Linked DNA regions of Homo sapiens. The protein of the gene in region 2 purifies or fractionates together with the protein of the main gene of each other region. This does not show direct contact. Each region holds a gene or a part of one and is shown on either strand. Other genes may lie near its edges. The genes, in order: DBT and BCKDHB.

The links.
Region 1: the proteins of BCKDHB (region 2) and DBT purify together in Homo sapiens (affinity purification with mass spectrometry; 2 studies listed by BioGRID and IntAct, with this or other methods). This does not show direct contact.

Annotation. Positions count from the first base shown.
Region 1 is NC_000001.11:100,237,904-100,249,345, forward strand, and holds part of DBT (lipoamide acyltransferase component of branched-chain alpha-keto acid dehydrogenase complex, mitochondrial isoform 1 precursor), read right to left. Parts: intron 11,183-11,442; exon of another isoform or gene 10,996-11,182; intron 6,700-10,995; exon of another isoform or gene 6,640-6,699; intron 2,982-6,639; coding exon 2,858-2,981; intron 1-2,857. UniProt on the Homo sapiens protein: The branched-chain alpha-keto dehydrogenase complex catalyzes the overall conversion of alpha-keto acids to acyl-CoA and CO(2).
Region 2 is NC_000006.12:80,099,280-80,111,162, reverse strand, and holds the start of BCKDHB (2-oxoisovalerate dehydrogenase subunit beta, mitochondrial isoform 1 precursor), read right to left. Parts: upstream 4,493-11,883; 5' UTR 4,470-4,492; coding exon 4,274-4,469; intron 1-4,273. UniProt on the Homo sapiens protein: Together with BCKDHA forms the heterotetrameric E1 subunit of the mitochondrial branched-chain alpha-ketoacid dehydrogenase (BCKD) complex.

The DNA.
Region 1 (11,442 bases), on a different chromosome or scaffold from region 2:
GTGCTGGGATTACAGGTGTGAGCCACTCTGCCCAGCACAGAAGTATGTGATTTATATATTTATATACTTTTCAAAGCCATTTGAAAAGAAGGCAGATTTAAGAAAAATGTAAGATGTAAAATTAATAGGTTTTGATAATCAGTTTGATGTGAGACTAGAGTCAGGATGACTCCAGGTTTCTAGCTTTCCTTCCTCCCTCCCTCCCTCAAGATGACTCTAGGTTTCCTTCCTTCCTTCCCTCCTTCCTTCTTTCCCTCCTTCCTCCCTCGCTTCCTTCCTTCCCTCCTTCCTTCCTTCCCTCCTTCCTCCCTCGCTTCCTTTCCTCCCTTCCTTCCCTCACTTCCTTTCCTCCCTTCCTTTCCTCCCTTCCTTTCCTTGATTCTTCCCTCCCTCCTGATGGCTCTAGGTTTCTAGCTTCCCTCCCCTCCCCTCCCCATCCCTTCCCTTCCCGTCCTGTCTCATCACGTCCCTTCCAGTCCCGTCCCTTCCTCCTCTTCCTCCTCCTCCTTCTCTTCTTCTTTCTTTTATTTCCCCTCCCCTCCCCTTCCTTCCTTCTCCTTCTCCTCCTCCTTCTTCTCTTTTCTTCTCTTCTCTTCTTTTCTTTTCTTCTTAGACATGGCCTAACTCTGTTGCCCAGGCTGGAGGGCAGTGGCATGATCACAGCTCACTGCAGCCTCAAACTCTGGGGCTCAGGTGATCCTCCTACCTCAGACTCCTGAGTGGCTGGGACTACAGGTGTGGACCACCATGCTCAGCTGACTTTTTAAAATTTTTTGTAGAGGCAGGGTCTCATATCAATGGTTAAGCTAGGCTAGTCTAGCTTAATGACTTACTGAGTTAGGAAATATCAGAAGGAAAAGAGATTTGTAGAAGACTGAGTTTTGGGGACATTGGAATGGAGTTGGTGAGAGATGTGAGCTACAGCTACAGATTCACAAGTCTTCAATGAGGTGAGAGTTGAAGGCATGTGTGTAGATGTAGTACAAGAAGAGAGGGCAAAGGATGGGATCCTATGAAAAACTGAAGTTTAAAAGAGAAGCAGAAGAAGAGAAACCTTAATAAGTATCCAGAGAAAGCAGTATTAGTATATGTAAGCAGTATTAGTATATCTAAGCAGTATTAGAGTATGTAAGTACTTTATATATTCTAATTTATTTAATCCACCCAAGTATAAGGATCTTTGTTTTGTGTACTGATATATCCCAAGCACCTAGAGCAGTGCCTTGGAACACAGGTGATCAATAAATATTAATTGTTGAATGAATGAATTCTCACAAGAATACAATTAGCTAAATACTATGATTACTCCCATTTCCCAGATGGTGAAACTTGCTTAAAGTTACACTGCTAGTAATTTGTAGACCAGGAATCCAAGTAGCCTGGAACTGGTGTATCCAGCAACCCAAAGTTCCTAAGTGTTTACAGACTGGACCAGGAAGTTGAAGTATTTACTTGAATGACCTCTATTTTCTCTGGGAAGTAACAAAAAAAGATCAACTTTAAAAAATGGAAATTTTTGTAAAAGTAGTGAAGGTAAAGTTTACATGTCTTAGGCTATAGTGGAGGATGACATAGAAAAAACATGGAAGATGGCTGGGAACAGTGGCTCACACCTGTAATCCCATCACTTTGAGAGGTGAGACCCTGTCTCAAAAAAAAAAAAGAAAGCAAAAGAAAAGGCATGGAAGGCCGGTGCAGGGCTCATGCCTGTAATCCCAGCCCTTCGGGAGGCAGAGGCAGGAGGATCTCTTGAATCCAGGAGTTTTAGACCAGCCTGGGCACTGTGACAACATCCTGATAAATAAATAAATTAGCCAGGTGTAGTGATGCACACCTGTAGTCCCAGCTACTCAGGAGGTTGAGGCAGGAGGATCATTTGAGCCCATGAGTTTGAGGTTACAGTGAGCTATGATTGTGCCACTGCACTCCAGCCTGAGCAACAGAGCTCAAAAAAAAAAAAAAAAAAAAAAAAAAAAAAAAAAGAGCATGGAAAGGCTGACTTGGGGTCTGCCTGGAATTCCCCCATTTTTCATTCCCAGCACAAACTAAGCTCCCATGTATCTGTCAAAAACTTAATAGTGTAACAAAAGTCTAGGGTTCTTTATCAGGGTTCTAAATAGAACATCAGGAAAAAAAACAGTTCTTGTGCCCTTGCCAAATCTAATACTTAATCCTTCAAGTTCTTTACAGAGGGTAGAAAAAGCTGGGGAAAAAGTAAGTAAATGGTGAAAGTCAGGGAACTTTCTATTTAGTACTAAATCAGGCTGGTTTCATCACACCATGTTCACTTGACAGATTAAGTGCTTCTTTCAACAAACAATACCACAATGTGTATGCCAACACAAAGACACCTCTATTAAGTCAACAATTTACCTTGACTGAGAAAGTCATATCAATGCTGACTATTGCACTTAGATGAGCCAGATGATAAATAGATGGCCCAACACAACCCATTCCCAATATTATAAAGACACAAGTGCTGGGCGAGATAAGTTAATGCCTGTAATCCCAGCTCTTTGAGAAGCTGAGGCAGAAGGATCACTTGAGCCCAGGAGTTCAGGTTATAGTGAGCTGTGATTACACCACTGCACTCCAATCTGGGCAACTGAGTGAGATCCTGTCTCTAAAAAAAAATTTTTTTTAAAAAGGGGTGCCAGTGTTAAGGAAAGTATGTAAAAGAGAGGGATGAGAAAAAAGAAAGTGAGAACTGGAAAAATGTGGGGAGATGGGAAGGGCCCGGCTAGAAATACAGAGTCAACTTTTTTTTGTTTAAAAAGTCTCAATCAACTACTAAAAAATATTACTGAATGAGGTACAAAACATTATTTTATACACGTTATTTTGAAATCATACTTACCAGCAGTTGTTTTCAGGAAGTGATGTGGATGACTATACTTGAATGAAGGATAACCAAAGAAACACACATAATTTGGCTTCAAAACATGAACATTACCACATGTTTGAAAATAGCGAACACAAATCTACAGATGAGAAAACAAAAAGTAAAAGCATTTATAAACAACCATACCGGCTTATCTCTAAGTATAAATTGAATTTCAATTCCATTCTAAAAGTAGAACCATTGTCACAATAGAAATATTATATCCTTAGATTTAGATTTGTTACATTTATGATCCTTACCCAAAATTCCTTCTGAAAGTAAAGACATTTTAACAGTGTATTCTGTATAAATACATCAGCTTATAGGTATGCTTAAGTCATTGGACTTCCTGAACTAAAACTACTAAAGAATTCTAAAGTAATAGTTAGCATCTAAAAACAATGAAAAACTTGTATAGTATGATACCCCAAAGTTTACTTATAGTAACTTATAGATGACTCTTTAGAATTAACTATTTTACATAGTACCTTAGTATAATATTATTTTAAAATCTCTTATAGAAATAAGTAGGCCCAAATGTATTCAACTCTATATATCAAAACCTAAGTGTCTGAAAGGTATTGTGTGTGTGTGTGTGTGTGTGTGTGTGTGTGTGTGTGTGTGTATTTGAGACATGGTCTCACTCTGTTGCCCAGGCTGGAGTGCAGTGGTGCGATCACAGTTCACTGAAGCCTTGACCTTCTAGGCTCAAGGGGTCCTCCTGCCTCAGCCTTCCAAGTATCTGGGACCACAGGCGCATGCTACCCCACCCAATTAATTTTGTTTATTATTTGTAGAGACAAGGTCTCAGTATGTTGCCCAGGCTGGACTTGAAGTCCTGAGCTCAAGCAATCCTCCCACCTCAGCCTCCCAAAGTGCTAGAATTACAGGTGCGAGCCACCATGCCAGGCCATAATATCTTATTTGGAAAGTTAATATTTCAATGCCATTAGGCCAGGCGCGGTGGCTCACGCCTGTAATCCCAGCACTTTGGGAGGCCAAGGTGGGCAGATCACGAGGTAGGGAGTTAAAGAGACCAGCCTGGCCGATATGGTGAAACCCTGTCTCTACTAACAATACAAAAGAATTAGCTGGGCTTGGTGGCATGCGCCTGTAGTCCCAGCTACTTGGGAGGCTGAGGCAGGAGAATCGCTTGAATGCGGGAGGCAGAGGTTGCAGTGAGCCGGGATCGAGCCACTGCACTCCAGCCTGGTGACAGAGCAAGACTCCATCTCAAAAAAAAAAAAATTTCAATGCTATTAATACTTAACTACATCATACTGTAAACATAAACTACAGAATTTATTTACTTATTTAATTTTAAAGCCCTGAGCTTACTTCTCTGCAGAAATTTCTAACCTTCTTAGTATAAGAATACTGATAAGTGAAACTTTTTCATGTATGTAACAGAGTCACTTTTACTTAAAAAAAAAAATCATGTACATTAGTGGTGATTAGCTCTTAACTTTTAAAGGCTATGTTATAATAAACATCATATAGTACAGTCATGTTTTAATACATATTTATAAACTAGAATTTTTGTTTTTTTCTGATAGCAAATATAAAAGTAAAAGTTTGGTTTACTGACAAGAACAATACATTTAAATTCTTATTTTTTTACTTTAAATTTCAAACTATTACTGATTTCTGAAGGCAAAGAAAAACTGAAGATCCCTTTCCTAAAACATAAATAATCTTAAATCATTCATCTTAACTTTAGAGATCACCCTAAATCGACTAGTCTTTATAATATCAACATTTTATTTTTACTAACATTAATATTCAGGAAATATAAAGCCTAACTAAAATAATTAAAATTGATAACTTAAAACCAGAAGACAATAAAAGAATTCTCTTTCCCAAACATTTCCATTTTGTTTGTCCTTGCTTTCTCCTTCAGCTCCCATAATCCTGACTCTTGGTCAACAATAAAATCAAAGGAGTGAATCAACCTCTGTTTCATCAGACATAAAACTTAGGGACAATAAAGGAAAGTTTTGAAGTATATAGATTCACCTTAATTTAAATAAAATTGTTCATATTTGTAAAACATTTGAAAGAAAATTAAACTACTAGAAGGTCTTACCTTCAACAACAACACAACTCGTATTGAACTATTCATGGGTCGGGGCAGCATAAACCACCACGCTTAACATTTATTGAGTGCCTCCCATGTGCTGAGTACTTTCTTTTCAGACAGGCCAGGCATGGTGGCTCTGGCCTGTAATCCCATCACTTTGGGAGGCTGAGGTGAGTGGATTGCTTGAGGTCAAGAGTTTGAGACCAGCCTGGTCAACATGACGAGACCCCCTCTCTACTAAAAATACAAAAATCAGCTGGACATGGTGGCACACGTAGTCCCAGCTACTTGGGAGGCTGAGGCACAAGAATCACTTGAACCTGGGAGGCGGAGGTTGCAATGAGCCAAGATCACACCACTGCACTTCAGCCTAGGTGACAGAGAGACCTTGTCTCCAAAAAAAAAAAAAAAAGAAAGAAAAAAAGAAAAATAGCCTTTTTAGACATCATCTTTTTTTCTTTTTTTTTTGAGATGGAGTTTCACTCTGTCACCCAGGCTGGAGTGCAGTGGCACGATCTCAGCTTACTGCAACCTCCGCCTCCCAGGTTCATGCGATTCTCGTGCCTCAGCCTCCCAAGTAGCTGGGACTACAGGCATGTGCCATCATGTCCAGCTAAACTTTTTTTGTGTGTATTTTAGTAGAGACGGGGTTTCATTATGTTGCCCAGGGTGCTCTCGACCTCCTCAGCTCAGGCAATCCGCCCACCTTGGCCTCTCAAAGTACTAGGATTACAGGCCATGAGCCATGGTGCCCGGCCCAGACATCATCTTTACATTTACAATTTCCCTGTGGAACATACACGTTAGCCCTCTTCAACACACGGGAAACTGATGGGAAAGGTGAAGTAATTTGTCCAAGGTCACACAGCAAATAAGTGGAACAATCGAGCTCTGAAGCTAAATAAATTTGATGTCAAAGACCCTAGAAATAGGAGAAATAATCCCTAATTTCAAAGAGTTTACAACGTATGTGAGAAAATAAACACACATACAAACACACTCAAGCATGGACATGCATGCTCTAACTTTTTGTAATAAGAGGCATAGGCTTCTTTAATATAGTCCATAGGTTTACGAAAAAAAAAAAAAAGAGACATAGGCAGTACGTGATAAAGGAGTTTAAGCAGGCCGGGCACAGTGGTTCATAGCTGTAATCTCATTGCACTCCAGCCTAGGCAACAAGAGCAAAATTCTATCTCAAAAAAAAAAAAAAAAAAAAAGGAGTTTAAGTAGAGGGGTCTGGTGGGCTTTTTTTTCACGTTAGTGTGACCTGGGAAGGCTTCTTGGAGGAAGATTTAAGCTGCACTGTGCATAATAAGCATACATAATAAAAGAGCAGAAGGGCACTTTTAAGGCAGAGGAAACAGCATAAATAAACTACAGCAGAAATTGACTTAGCATATCTGCTGGGACATTGAGCGGCTTGATTTGGCTTGACCAAAGGTATAAAAGAGAGCAATGGAAACAGCTCAAGGAGGAAATGGTTGATGACTATAATGTCAGTATAAGGAGTTTGAACTCATACATTATGGGTTATTGAAGAAAAAGGATTAGGAAATTAGTAGTGGTTTATTGAATAGATTATAACAGATAAAATCTGGAGAGAAAGGGAGAAGTCAAGAAACTATTACATACCAAAATTATCAAAAAAGGATTTTTTTAAAAAAATAACTATTACCGTATTCCTCTCTTATCTCCTTATGTGCAGTGGACACGTTCAAGATCCCCCGGTGGGTGCCTAAAACCATGGACAGTACTGAATCCTACATATTCTACATATACCGTGTTTTTCCTATATATACATACCTATGATAAAGTTTAATTTATAAATCAGACACAGTAAGACAGTAATAATAATAACTGATAATAAAATAGAAAAATTATAATAATATACTGTAATAAAGGTTTTGTGAATGTGGTCTCTCTCTCAAAATATCTTACTGTACTGTGCTCACCTATTTTCAGACTACAGTAGATCATGGCTAACTGAGACCACAGATAAGAAGGGGAGAGTACTGTATAGTATTTGAGACACAAAGCAACAGGCTCCTGACTGAGGTAATTAATAGTAGAAAAAGAAAAAAAGCAACAAAAGTACCATAGGCAGTATATGATTAATATAATAGTAATTGAATGGCTCTGAGGAGAAGGCTAAAAACACTGTGAAGTTGCTGAATAGATGGATTAACAGGCAACAGGAAAGAGGAGAAGAAATAATTTTTCAAGCTAGAATTCTAAATTTTTTTTCTAGAAACAGACTATTAGACTAGTAAATTATATTTTTTAATTTTCTTCAAAGACAGGGTTGGCTGGGTGCAGTGGCTCACACCTGTAATCCCATCTCAAATAATAATAATAATAATAAAATAAAGACAGGGTCTCACTTTTTTGCCCAGGATGGTCTTAAACTCCTGGGCTGAAGCAATCCTCCTGTCTCAGTCTCCCAGAATGCTAGGATTACAGGTGTGAGCCACCACACCCAGCTAGACTAGTAAATTAAGCATAAGGCTTTAAACCTCCAATTTTAAAAAGGCATGCTTATGGAATTATCAGTTTTATATATTTTATATTTGAAGCAATTCTAAATTCATCTATGAACAATACTAAAGACACCTAGTTCTATGGGGACCATCTGTACCAATTTGCCTGAGGTGACACCCAATTCACCTCTAGTGATTCAAGGCAATTATTAATAACACCATTTTCATTCTCAAATACATCCTGGTTGAACAACTATACGTGTAGTCTAAGTCTTAATGCAATTATTTGACTAAAATAGGTCTTTCCTTGATTTTAAAAATAATTCAGCCAGGTGCAGTGACTCATGCCTGTAATCCCAACATTTTGGGAGTCCAAAGCAGAAGGATCACTGGAGCCCAGGAGTTCAAGACCATACTGGGCAATGCATTGAGACTTTGTCTACTAAAAATCAAAATAATTAGTTGGCTGTGGTGGTGAATGCCTGTAGTCCCAGCTACTTGGGAGGCTGAGGAAGGAGGACCACTTGAGCCCAGGAGGTCAAGACTGCAGTGAGCCAAGATCATGCCACCACACTCCAGCCTGGGCAACAGAGCAAGAACTTGTCTCAAAAATAATAATAAATAAAATAAAAAATTAGGCCAGGTGCAGTGGCTCATGCCTGTAATCCCAGCACTTTGGGAGACTGAGGCAGGTGGATCACGAGGTCAAGAGATCAAGACCATCCTGGCCAACACAGCGAAACCCCGTCTCTATTAAAAATACAAAAATTAGCTGGGCATGGTGGCGCGTGCCTGCCCAGTTACTTGGGAGGCTGAGGCAGGAGAATCGCTTGAACCCGGGAGGCGGAGGTTGCAGTGAGCTGAGATTGCACCACTGCACTCCAGCCTGGTGACAGAGTGAGACGCCGTCTCAAAAAAAATAAAAATAAAAAATTAATAATTCAATATCACAACCAGGACAGAAGAACATAAAGGGAAATGAAACTGTTCACCAAAGTAGCGTATTAAGGAAATATTTAATAATAATTCAATAGGCAGCTGTTGAGCACTCCTAAAGTCAGACATTGTACTGGACTTGGAAATGCAAAGCTAAATAAGATGCAATATATAGTTCCTGAATTCAAATTGCTTACACTTTACTACAGGAAGACAGACACAACAGAAAAATTCCAAATGGCATGATTAATCAAGAGTCAAATGCATTATGTCCTAGGGAAATGTAAAACACAACATTATAAGGCTATTTTAATAATTTACTACGGGGGTAAGAACTGTTTTTGCTTACAACTTTTTAGAAGAGTTTACAAACCTGACTTTTTTTTTTACTGAGTCATTTAAAAAATATTTATGCACACCTACAATGTGCCAGGCACTTGGGATTATACAGAGAACAAAACAGATGCAATTTCTTCCCTTATAGAATGCACAGTACAGTGAAAGGTAAAGACAAGTAAACCGGTGATTATAACACGTGCTATAATGAAGGAAATAGAGTGTGTTAAGGGAACCTAGCTGGAGAAAGTTATGTTGAAGTAAGACCTGACGGATGAGTAGGTGTAACCCCGGGGATGAGGTATGTTGCAGATAAGGCCACAGTGGAGTAAGGCAAGAGTCTTTAAAGCAGAGGAAATACATGTGCAAAGGTCTGGAGTTGAGACAGAAAGCACAGTGTGTGTGCAAATAACTCAAGTTGTTCAACAGACTTCTAGTGTAGTTTAGTGTGGAATAAGGGTGGGGAAGTGTCAGAGTTGGGGTTGGGATGGGTAGGTTTTGGTAAGGAATGAGATCTAAGAGACTGGAAAGGTCCAGATCATAAATTGCCTCATAGTCATTTGAATTTTGGACATTTTGCTGAAGGCAGTTTTAAACAAGAAAATGATATTATCAAATGTCTCTTACTTTATAAGATCACTCTGGCTACACTATGGAGAATGGGTTGGAAAAACTACAAGACCACTGGAGGCATATAATCCAGTTAAGAAGGGCCAAGACACCTCCAGTTGAGGGCAGGGTGGAAAAATCATGACTAGATTTCTTCAGAGAGAATTACAGGCTCAAATCAAGAGAAACTGGGCCAGGGGCAGTGGCTTACGCCTGTAATCCCAGCACTTTGGGAGGCCAAGGCAGGAGGATCACCTGAGGTCAGGAATTCAAGACCAGCCTGGCCAACATGGCAAAACCCCGTCTCTACTAAAAATACAAAAATTAGCCAGGCATGGTGGTTCGCGCCTGTAGTGCCAGCTACTTGGGAGGCTGAGGCAGGAAAATCACTTGAACCCAGGAGGTGGAGGTTGCAGTAAGCCGAGATTGCACCACTGCACTCCAGCCTGGGCAACAGATCAAGACTCTTCTCAAAAAAAAAAAAAAAAAAAATTAAGAGAAACTGGTTTGAGGGTTCAGTTCTAGAGGCTGGAGAGTCTGACCTGCTTTGAAGCTTTACGGCAGACACTGTGAGAAGACTAAAGACAAGCTTTTCTGCTGGGCATGGTGGCTCATCCTGTAATCCCAGCACTTTGGGAGGCCAAGGCAGGCGGATCACTTGAGGTCAGGAGTTTGAGACCAGCCTGGCCATCATGGTGAAACCTCGTCTCTACTAAAAATACAAAAATTAGCTGGGCATGGTGGCGTGTGCCTGTAGTCCCAGATATTTGGGAGGCTGAGGCAAAAGAATCGCTTGAAACTGGGAGGCAGGGGTTGCAGTGAGCCAAGATCGCACCACTGTACTCCAGCCTGGGTGACAGAGAGAGACTCCATTTCAAAAAAAAAAAAAAAAAAGACAAGTTTTTCTAAGCTCCCTTGTGCTAGCCGGGGCCATGTAACACAGTTCTGGCCAGTGAGACTGGAACCTCCTCCTCTTCCACCTTCCTGCCTTCAACATAAAAGAAGAAGTCGTAGCAGCCCTCTTGTATACAGTAGGAAAAGGACAAATGAACTACTAGGGAAATGACGACATTGATAATCATAAGCCACTTAATGTGAGCTGACATCTAATTGGGGATGCTCTGTATGCATGGATACTTAATTTCCTATTTATTGGTTGGGTTTTTAATTGCAGCTGGAAAACATCACGTACATATGAAACTGGAGATTTCCAGGACAGTAGGATATATGGGTTTGGAGTAGACCTGGTTGGAAGACTGGGGAACTTTAGGACTCATCAGCATAGATGGTAACTAAAGCCAAAGAGTGGATGGGATAACCCAGAAAGTGGGAAAAGTGCAGAGGGCCAAAGTCAGAGCCCTTTAGAAAAAGCAATATTTAAAAGGCGGGAAGGGAAACAGGATATTGGGATGAAGTGGCCAAAGATGAAGAAAGAATAATATTGGGAAACTGGTGTCACAGAAAACAAGAATGGAAAGCTCTAGAAAGAAGAGAGACCAATATGTGTTAAGTGTTGCTGAGAAGAGCTCTCTTCTCCTGGTTATCTCTTACTTATCCTTCTTACATCTCAAGTCATACAGTATCCTCTGGGAACTCCTCTGACCCCCAAGTCCACCATAGGTGTCCACTCCTGTGTGTTCCTGTAGTTCTAGGCACTTGTCCCATCACAGTACCTCTCATGCTGGGTTGTAATTTCTATCTGTCTCCCTCTCCTTTGTCCTCCACCACAAGGTTGTAATCTCTTGAGAAGGAAGATATGATGTCTATTTCATATTTGTATCTCCAGTGCCTAACACAGCACTGGTACATAGCAGGCTCTTGAAAGTTTTTGTAAGATCGGGGTCACCAAGGCAGGAGCATCTAGGGAAAGGGAGAAGAGGCAGGAAGAAGAAACACTAAGCAAATAGGGGTAACAAGTATCATTACCGGTATGTGTCAGTGCTTGGTGCTAAGACTGGGAGAAAGAGAAGGAAGTGCAGGGGAGATGGTGATGGGTCACAGCCTTGGTGACAAAAGGGTAGGAATGATATGTGGTGCGGACATAGAAGTACAAGGCAAAAGAGTGACGCCGAGCTGCTCAGTTCTTCGGAAGCAGGGACCCCTGCTGATATTCTATAACT
Region 2 (11,883 bases):
ATTATGGGAATGGAAGGAAAGCCACAAGTAAGATCCTTTATTCCTCCTTTGATTTGTCAAATTGAGAAACAAATCTTCCAACAGTAATTTCTAGTAGTATCAAGCTGCCCAGGCCCCCTGTTAAAAAGAGATATTATGGTTAAAATAGGGGCACTACTACAATTTAAGCATCATCTGGTGAAATTGCTAATAGTCAAAAATACAGACACTGTCCCAGACCACATTAATAAACAGGTTAACACACTGGCATGGTATACTGGAAAACCAAGGAAGGCTAAAACAGCAGTGCCAGCCAAAATACAGCTTAAAGACCCCTAGCTATTTATTTTCCCAATCAAAAACAATACCCAATTAAGCTGGAAGCAAGGAAAGGCCAAGCATCCACAGCTAAGGTATTACTTACCCCTGGGCTCTTAAGACCCACTGGTAGGTCCACCCATTGGTGGCAGATCCATATACCCTCCTGGCTCAGGTGCCAAGGGATGCTAAATGGTTCTCAGTCCTAGACCTAGAAGATGCTTCATTTTCCATTCCTCTGGCCCCAGAATCCCAATACCTTTTTGCCTTTGAATGGGAAAATCCTAATGCCAGAGAAAAACAATAATACACTTGGACAGTTCTCCCTCAGGGTTTTCAGGATAGCCCCCATTGCTTTGCCTGGGCCTTAGAGAGGAATCTGAGGGGTCTGCAATTAATTAAGAAATGGGAGTATACTCCAGTATATGGATGACCTCCTTGTGTATAGCCAAATCCTGGATGAAAAAACTACAAAAAGTTTGAATTTCCTGGCAGATAGGGGATACCAAGTGTCCAAAACGAAGGTTCAGATTACCCTCCGACAGGTCCATGATCACATCCTTAGCAGCTAGCAGAGAGTATGGCATCCAGGAGAAAATAAAAATGCAGAGAATGACTGAATAAACAAACTCACATCCATACAATGCCCAAGAATCAGGGGCATGGAGAAGCCAGGATGAACTGTTCTCAGAGAACAACACAGTGTAATAAAGGGAGCAAACATGCCAGCATAAAGCAGCATAAGTGTCACCAACTCAGAGTCTAATCTGACTACCTCCTTTTAAGCAGTACCTTTTATATGTCAAAACAACCAAAATAAAAGAGTGAAAAGTATTTGCAGGACATGTGAAAAGCAGAAAGTTAGTATGTTCTTCAATATTTTTTAACAGACAAAATCTTAGTATATAAGTAGTGTGGGAGGCTTTGGAGTAAGACACATCAGGATTCAAACTCTGGCTCTGCTACTTACCAGACTTGGGTAAGTACTAACATTTCTGAGCCTCAATTTTCTCATCTTTAAAATGAGCATAATATTGTCTAGTTCACAAGGTTACTGTGAGGATTATAAACTGATGTCTAACACAACACCTGGAAAAGAGCAGCTATGCAATAATCGTAGATAGTATTGATAGGAAAAATACTGAGTATACTTTTAAAAATATGTAAATACATCTAATATTCAATTCTTAAGTAAAAATAAATCAATTTAACAAAAACATGGGAAAATATTCCTCAACAGAAATGAAACAAAAATTAAAACAAAGTACAGTTAGCACAAAATATCCAAGAGTGTACATGAACACACCTAATTTTAGCATTAATATCCAATACTCACACTATTATACATATTATGGGGTATAAATGGGTATAAATTTGAACTATGCACTTAAAATCCATTAAAGTATTCAGGACTCTATCCTAAAGAAATAATCTCAGATACATAAAACCCATATGCATGAAATGCTTGTATCTGCATTATTTACAAAATTGCAAAATTTTAACAACAAAAACATAATGGTAATTATTTAAAGGTTCCACTTATTGACTGAATGCTTGATTCTCAGTTGTCAAACAGTGTTAAGTATATTATAGACATTGTTTTATGTAGCCCTCACAACAACCTTCTGAAGTAGGTATTATTATTAACCCCTTACATATAAAGAAACTGAGGCTTACAGAGGATAAGTAGTAACTCCAAAGTTATAGACAGCCAAGGCAAGATCAAACTTAGGACAATCTGATTCCGGGGTCAAGAATTTAACTTGTAAAAGACTTGTAGCATCTCTACTCCATGGAACAGTTCTTCTAAATTCTCAAGAAGGTTATAAAAACTCCAGTGAATTGTAGGATAATTCTTCCGACTAAATAAGTTGTATTTGTATTAAAACTAAAAGTATGGAAAATACGAAACTAAAAGGAAATACCTGTAAGGATACACCCAAAATGTTAGCAATATTTACTGCAGTGGGTGGTGATTTTTGTTTTTTGGTTTTTTGGGGTTTTTTTGAGACAGAGTCTTGCTCTGTCACCAGGCTGGAGTGCAGTGGCACGATATCAGCTCACTGCAACCTCTGCCTCCCAGGTTCAAGCGATTCTCCTCCCTCAGCCTCCCGAGTAGCTGGGACTACAGGCATGCGCTGCCACGCCCAGCTAATTTTTGTATTTTTGGTAGAGACCGGGTTTCACCATGTTGGCCAGGATGGTCTCGATCTCTTGACCTGGTGATCCGCCTGCCTCCGCCTCCCAAAGTGCTGGGATTACAGACGTGAGCCACTGCGCCCGGCAGATTTTTTTTTTTTTTTTTTACTTTTTATCCATTATCCAAATTATCTGTTAATATGTTTGTATTATTTTTAAAATAAGAACAAGTTTATATATATCATGATATATATCATGATAACATGATATCATTTTACTTAGATTTTAGTAAGTTTACAACTATGGAAAGTTGGACTATTTCTCAAGTATTAGACCAAAATTTCTTTGCTTTGAAGACAGAATTTGCTTTGAAGACAGAATTGAGGGCTCATCTTGGTGGTGGAAAAAAAAAAAAAAACACCTACTATTAACCTTTATGGTACCTACTGTTTCACAATACTGGGACGCCCTCCAAGTAAATTATATCTACACGCATCTTAGTACATTGTTTAGAATGGAAGCTCTGGAATCTGATCAATTAGATTCCAAAGCTGGAGCTTTGGAGCTACCACTAACTTACCTGTGTAATCTTGGTCAAACTGTCTCAAGACTCCATTAACCTAACTGCAAAATGGGAATAAAAACTTTACTAACCTTTTAAGGTTGTCCTAACCCTTAAATGAGATGATGAAACATACACACAGCACCTGACCCTGGTAAGCACTCAATAACTGTTCATTCTTATCCACAAGACACACTTCCAAAAATGTCAGCTCTAGCATGCACATGAGAAGTTATTAGACAAGGAAGCAATACATGTTTCCCTACAGTTTCCTGATATTCTGAAGAGAGACACTGGATCTGATATTCTGATGAGAGACATTACATGAAACTTGCAGAAATGGTAAAAATCATGCAACAGTCATACTATGAGGAGTTTGCTACATGCCCTTCCTATGGCTTCCTCCTCTCATCCCCTTCACCTCCTTGGCTAAGTGGCAGCATAGCCCAGGACAAGCTCAGTACTAAGCTCAAGTAGAAAGTCTGAATTCTTTCACATCTCTAGGAAGGACCTGTTCTGTGACCTTGGGAAAATCAGTTCAATTACTCAGAATTCTGTAGGTAAGAAGAAACCAAGGGACATATATACATATATGCATATATATATGCATATATATGTGTGCATATATATATATGCATATATATATATATGCGCACATATATATGCATATATATGCGCGTATATATATCCACACATATATATATGTGTGTGGATATATACACACACACACACACACACACATACACACAATTTCTGTATGTAAGAAGAAACCAAGGGACTGAGTAACTGAATTGATTTTATATACATATATATATTTTATATATAATATATATAATATACATTTAAAATATATATATATAAACATATATATATATCTTTTAAATGCCTCTACCTAAGCTAGTGGCCCAGTCCTGGCCAGGCTGGAACAACACCTAAGGCCTGGGTTGAGAAAGCAAGGACGGAGGACAGAGAAAAGGGAGGCGTTCCCTGGGCACCACCCCTCCACCCTCAGGCTCTTCCAGGTGGCAGTATGCCCTCTCACCCATCTCAAAGTTGCGGGGGAGGGGGGACTGCGTCTCGAGGGCTGAACAGTCACAAAAATAGAGCAAGAAGTGAACCACAGTTAGACCCTGAGGCAAGGAGGTTCCAGAGAGTCAGGAAGTTAATAAGCTGGGATGCAAGGATTGCAGCCTGCCGGCCCCTGCCCCTCGCGGGCGCCTGCGAGCCTGGGAGTCCGGGCTGCAGCGGGACCGAGTGGGCAGTCCCAGGGCTCACCGTACTCCCGGGGCTCCGGATCTGGCTGGAAAGTAAAATGAGCCACCTGCCGCCTCTGGGCCGCATCCTCGACAGTCGCGGCGGGGTGCAAAAAGCCCCGCGCCAGCCCCGCGCCAGGAAGCCGACGCCAGTGCCCCTCAGCCCCTGCCGCCCTGAGCCTGAGTAGCCAGCCGGCAGCCGCCGCTACAACCGCCATCCCCGCTCACCACCGGGATTCTCAGGCTATGCAGCCGCACGCCGCCTGCGGGGAGGGCGGAGCACCCGAGGAGGCTTCCACATTGGTCGGGCCAGAGGGGCGGTCCCATGAAACAGACCAATCGGAACTGGAAATTTAGGGGCGGGGAAGGCGACGTGACGAGCTGGTCGGCTTCTGCTCCTTGTGCGCATGCGGAAGAGGGGAAGTGTGGGCTAGAGGTGGCGCCAATGAAATAGTTTCTGGGGTGGAGCCTCCCCGAGGTCGGCCGTGCGGTCCTCGGGTGAGGACCCGAGTTTGCAAAGTTCCACACAGTGCCTGGAGGCGATCTTTTCCGGTGTCATTTACAGTGCCATTTCCAATGGTTTAACATCCATACTTTTTTTTAAATGTAACCCTTTTTTATCCTGTCCTGTCTCTATTATTGTGTGAGAGGTGAAGAGAGCTACTGATTGGCATTGGTTATTGTTTTGACTTTCGAAAAACTGCTGTAGTCACTGCTCAAAGCTTTCACTCCTTATTCACACCCTCCTTAAAATGCTTAATAAGCATATATAGATTTTTATTGATTTCGTTTTTCCACATTTAAATGAGAGATGAAAGAGGTAAACTTAGATTTCATCCTGCAAATCCACTGAATAGGAATTCAGATACATTTTGCCCAGAAGTAGCAAAAATTACCTGATTGGCTTAGTCTAAGTAGCTTAGAAACCTGGAGAATTTGAGTCACTAATTTTCATTTATAGTAATCAACTATGTAAATTTGTTTTAATCTAAGTGTTTACCAGGATACATTCTCTGTCCATGAATTTACTAAAAAAAAAAAAAAGCACATAAAACATGAAATATCATAAAATCAAATATGACAAGAGACAACAGAGACAGTGTGTCCATCAGATGAAAATGGGAGGGTGGGGAAGGATGGTCCCAAAACAGAATTTGAAGAAGAAAGTGGGAGTGGAGGAAAAGAACATTCCTCTTCCATTATGCCTTGCCTCTTAACCCATCTTTGGTTTTGCACAGGGGCAAGGGAGGAGAGGGTAGAAATGGGGCAAAAGGAGAGGCAGAGAAATGTGTTTTCTGACTGAGATTAAGAAACAGCAATTGAAAACTGCCAAAGGGAGAACCAGAATTATGTCTCCATTTTTCCTACCCCCACACTAAGTCCAAAAATTCAACATTGGGGAAATTTTTTATCTTGGCTTTTGTTAGTGTTCATTTCTGCTGTTTTAATAGTGTGGGGTAGAGTGTTTTGCATGTGCATGAAGGGTATTTTTGTTTTAATGAAGGAAGGGGTAACAAAATGAAATTACATTTACATAGTCAAATTTGGGTTTAAACTAAGGAGAGTAAAGAACAAGGATAAAAATGAATAGAGCTTTTTTTCTATTTGTTGATAGTTTAGGGAGCTGGGGGTACTGAGATTATTTAGGTCGGGGAGAAAAAGAGAAAAATAATAACTGATGAGAATTTTATTGAACCTCTGCTACGTACAACCCAATGACAAGCCACCATTGAGACAAATAAGATCAAGGCATAGTTTTACTTCTAAAATGTCCAAGGTGGTAGAGAAAAGAGACAGATTAGGCAACTACAATCCAATGTGATAGGAGTCCTAGAATAGTGCAAACAAAGTGAAACACAAAAAGAGCAATAAACTCTTATTTGAAAGTCAAGTGTTTCCAGATATAACTCTGAGCTAGACCTAAAAGATGACTAGAAGTTACCAGGCAGACTAGGGAGAAAATGGCATTCCAAACTAAGAAGAAACCTGTATAAAGGCTGATAGGCATGAAGAGCACAGTGCATTCCAGGAAGAGAAAATAGCTTGGTGCTTCTAGATTCAGGGTGTAGGGAATGATACAGGGTTAACAGAAAAAGTAGGAAAAACAGATTAAAGGGAGATTTTGAAGGTCTAAGAGGTTTGAACTTTCAACTACATGCAGCCAGGAAAAACAAACAGAGCACCTGCCAGATTCACCTGTTTTGCAAACTGATTTTTTAAATTTTCCCCATCTCTACCACACCATTTGCCTGGTAACCATGAAAATGTCTATGTTATTACAGTGGGACTTTCCTCCATTCCCCTTGCCCTGGCCACATTTACTCAATTTGGGAAACTGTCCTTTTCTGGGAATTTTGGAAGTGTAGTTTAGAAAGAAAGATCAGATTATCTTTAAATGCCACTAGGAACTGCAAAAAATGGGAGTTTTCAGTAATTTCGTGAACCAGAAAAGGTGAAGAGTGTGATTATATTTGAGTTCCTGATTCCATTTATTCCCAAGGCCTAACTGCTTTCTGGTCCTGGGGTTCTATGAGACATCACCGTATCCTTAAAATGTATTCCCCTCTTTGTTTAAGCTATTTCCAATTGCAGAACCCATGACTATGGAGTTGGAATACAAAGCAAAGTTGCTCTTCACCCTTCAGAATGACTCTTGCATCACTTGCTCTCACTGAGCTTCACTACCTGTGCAACTTGTACCTGTTTAGTCTCAGCTTGCTTTTAGACGACCATTTTATATAGCAAGATGATAGTTTTGCAGTATTACATCCTGGCATCTGCCTCCTTTCAAACTCAAACAGAGGTATCATGGAGGCAGAAAAAAAAGAAATCAAATTATTGCTTTTGAATTTTAAAATAGATTTTAAACTTGATAGCAGAGACAATAATTTGAGAGAAAAGTTTGAATTCTACAGACTGGTTTCTGAGTATTAAACCTCAAAAACCTGAATGAGTTAGGAAACAAAGCTTAGGGCTAAAAGAAAAGATTGTAAATCACATACCAGTATAAGAGATGGTTTGTCTCACCTTCCATGGAGGTACAGCTATAGATTAGAAAGACCTGTAGGTATCCTCCTTTGTAGATGAACCTAGAAAAGTATCACTAAATCCTCAGGCTACCCAGCATGTCATGGCATTTGAAACAGCAGGATGCTTCTCCCATGTGGCCAAGAGAGATGCAGCTATGGCAACAAGATCCAGGGAACTTGAGGAGACCCAGCAATCAGAATGATAAGGACTTGTGTCTAGAATATACTGATTGAAAGTCTTAAACGCAACAATAGAAAAGAAAAATTACCCAATTAGAAAATGGGCAAAGAATTCTCATTCATTGATTGTGGCAATGCAAAATGGTATAGCCACTTTGCAACACAGTTTAGTTTTTTATAAAACTAACATATTCTCACCATGAAATCCAGCAGTAGTGCTGCTTGGTATTTGCCCAAATAAGCTAAAAATGTATGTCCACATTAAAACCTGTGCAGAATATTTACAGCAGCTTTATTCATAATTGCCCAAACTTGGAAGCAACCAAATAAACTTAATGGAATATTATTCAGCACTAAAAAGAAATATTAAGCTGGGTGTGGTGGCTCATGCCTGTAATCCCAGCACTTTGGGAGGCCGAGGCGGGCGGATCACCTGAGGTCAGGAATTTGAGACTAGCCTGGTCAACATGGTGAAACCCCGTCTCTACTAAAAATACAAAAATTAGCTGGGCGTGGTGGTGTGCACCTGTAGTCCCAGCTATTCAGGAGGCTGAGGCAGGAGAATCGCTTGAACCCAGAAGGCAGAGGTTGCAGTGGGCCCAGATCACGCAACTGTGCTCCAGCCTGGGCAACAGAGTGAGACTCTCAAAAAAAAGAAAAAAAAGAAAAAAAAATATTTAACCATCAGAAGACATGGAAGAAGTTTAAATTTATATGACTAAGTGAAAGAAGCCAATCTAAAAAGGCTACATACTATATGAATCCATCTATATGACATTCTGGAAAAGGCAAAATTATGGAGAGAATAAAAGAGATGAGGGGTTGCAAGGGTTGGGAGCAGGAAGGGATAAATGGAAAATCACAGAGGATTCTTAGGGTAGGAAAAATATTCTGTATGATATTATAATGGTGGACATATAAATATGTCATTATACATTCGTCCAAATGCATAGAACGTACACCACCAAGAGTGAACCCTAATGTAAACTATGGGCTTTGGTTGACAACTGTGTGTTAATGTAGGTTCCTTGATGGTGACAAATGTGCCACTGCAGTGCAAATGTTGATGATTAAGGAAGCTCTGTATTTGGGGAAAGCATATGGACATTCTCTGTACCCTCCTCTCAAATTTTTTGTGAACCTAACACTGCTCTAAAAAACATAGCCTATTTAAAGAAATGGACAAAGGATTTGAATGACATTTCTCCAAAGAAGATATGCAAGTGGCCAATGAACATAAGAAAAGATTCTCAACATCAATAGTCATTAAAGAAATACAAATCAAAACCACAATGAGATACCACTTCATATCCACTAGGATGATTAAAATAAAAAGAAATCTATAACATGTGTTGGTGAGGCTGTATAGCAACTGGAACCATTGTGCATCACTGGTGGGACTGTAAAATGATGCAGCTGCTATGGAAAACAGTTCCGCAAAATGTTAAACACAGTTATCTTTTTAATTTTGTTCTTCTATTTCTCTTCCTTTTTTGTTTTTTTAAACATAATTATCTTATGACCCAGCAATTCCACTCCTAAGTATATAACAAAGAAAAATGAAAAGGTGTATTCACCAAAGCTAGTACACAAATATTCGTAGCTGCACTATTCATAATAGCAAAAAAGTGGAAACAATCCAAATACCCATGAAATGATGAATGGTTAAACAAAACTGATATATCTGTAAATAGAATATTATCTGTCAATAAAGAGTAATTAAGTAGTGTTACATGGATGAACTTTGAAAACATTACGCTAAGTGAAAGAAGCCAGTTTAAAATACTATATATTATACAATTACATTTATAAAAAGTCCAGAATAGACAAATCAACAGAGACAGGAGGTAGGGAATGACTGCTAATGGATATAAAGTTTGTTTATTTATTTATTTATTTATTTATTTATTTATTTATTTTGAGACGGAGTCTCGCTCTGTCGCCCAGGCTGGAGTGCAGTGGCGGGATCTCGGCTCACTGCAAGCTCCGCCTCCCGGGTTCACGCCATTCTCCTGCCTCAGCCTCCCAAGTAGCTGGGACTACAGGCGCCCGCCACTACGCCCGGCTAATTTTTTGTATTTTTAGTAGAGACGGGGTTTCACCGTTTTAGCCGGGATGGTCTCGATCTCCTGACCTCGTGATCCGCCCGCCTCCGCCTCCCAAAGTGCTGGGATTACAGGCGTGAGCCACCGCGCCCGGCCTAAAGTTTATTTTTTGAGTGATGAAAATGTTCTAAAATTAAGTAATGTTGATGGTTGCACAACTTTGCTCTATGCTAAAAACCAGTGAATTGTACATTAAAAGGATGAATTTCATGATATGTAAATTATATATCAGTAGCACTATTATTTAAAAATTAAATTACAGAAAAATAAAGTTATATTTGCCCATCTAAATATGTTGATGAAGAGATTCATTCCCCCTACAGCATGTTTAACATCCAGTGTATTAGTTCACAGACTCTGTTCATATGAAATCGGTTTCAACTAAGGACTCGGGATAATGGAAAAGCTCCCTGATTTTCCTTACTTCACTGAATTACTAAGTGGAATGATCCTGTTGGAATCAAAAGAAAGTCCAGAATATACTCAAAGCCAATGTATTTGTTTCCTAGGGATGCTGTCACAAAGCAGCACAAACTGGTTGCAGGAACGTATTGTCTGCGATTCTGATCAAGTCCAAGATCAAGGTGTCAGTGGGACCATGCGCCCTCTGAAACCTGTAGGAAAATTCTTCTTTTCCCTTTTGTTGGTTCTCTGGAATTCTTTGTCATCCCTTGGCTTGCAGTTGCATAAATCCAGTATGTGCGTTTGTTACCACATGCCGTCTCCATATCTTTGCACAGCTATCGTTTTATAAGGACACCAGTCATATTGGATTAGAAGCCCACACTGCTCCAATCTAACCTCATCTTAACTTAATCAATTACATCTGCCATGACCCTATTTCCAAATAAGCTTAAATTCTGAGGGCCAGGGGTTAGGTACTGGGTTTGGGGGTAGGGGAGTGTCAAGCTCAACATATCTTTCAGGGGACAGGGGCATAACAGTCAGAGACTTGGTTGCAGGAACAGAAGCTAACTGGATGAATGCTTTTGATAAACTATGGATGCTTTTGATAAACTATTAGGAGGATGTTTACATGGTTAAAGAGTTTTTATAAAGTGTTTTGTGGATTTCTTCAAATATGACCTAAAGTCATTTGGAGAAGGGTTAAAAATCTAGAGATATTTGGTCTAGATAAGATTTTAAAAGTGATGTATTAACTCTCCCTCAAAGTTTGATGGGCTCCCTTGTAGAGGGGTTAAATTTACTATTTAGCTCCGGAGGGAAGAATAAGAAACAGGAAGAAGCAAATTCTAGTGTAATATAAAGAGCTTCTTATTAAGTAGACTGTCATGGGAAGTAATGAATTCTCTATTACTGAAATAGTCAAGCACGAAATGGATGAACACTATTGAGGGAGCCTCTTGGGAGGATTTATGCTTCATTTACAGGTGGTTTAGCGTACTTCTAATTTTAAGAATTCTGATTCTACTATTCACTAGTGTGTACTGAGAGCCTTGCATGTGCCAGAGACAGTGTTTCAATCAACATTATTTTAAGCCAACCCCTGGTCTAAGCCAGCTGTCCCATCCAGCATGTGAGTTATTCCTTCTTCCCCTTCCTCGGCATCTTGGCAACTTCTCTCTGGCTTCTTATCTCCTGCAGGGGCTTGAGATGCACTGTGATCAGTCTTCCAAGCACTTTGAACCATGCTATGTAGACAGAAGCCGTGTAAGCCAGTCACTGAAGAAAGGGCATCAAAAAGTGACATTATTGGAAGTTTGGGCTCAGCCCAGGGGAAGGATTTAGATACAATCAATGGCTCAGAAAACGGCTACAAATGTTAATATCTGCCTGTATGTATAACAGTGTTTTAGAGAGAGCTACTCATCTGTAAAAATACATACCAGCCCGGCAGTAGTGATTTTTTAAAACTTCCCCAGGTAATTTATGAGTACTGCTAGGTTTCTCAAAGCTTAATTAAAACTATGGCTTACATAATTGTGAATATTGGGACAAAAGAAATTTGAGACCCATATCTTACCTTACCTCCATCACAAACTTTATTGGGAACACCAGGTGGTGACCAGTGTGGAAAAAGAGAGAAGAGCAAAGGGGCAGACAGGCAGTGGTCACCACCAAAGACCCTTGACAATTTGATTTCCTCACCATGTAAAGCCACTCCTAAACACAGGTAAAATAGAAGTCAGCCTATGTCACATGATGCACACATTTAACCTACCCAAATTCACATGAGACTTTAAGTAGAGCAATTGATTCTTTCCTTTTTTTTTTCAAACAGTGTAAGCCCTGGACCAGTGGTGCTCCGCCTTGACTTCACGTTAGGATCACCTAGGGAGCTTTCAAACATGCTAATA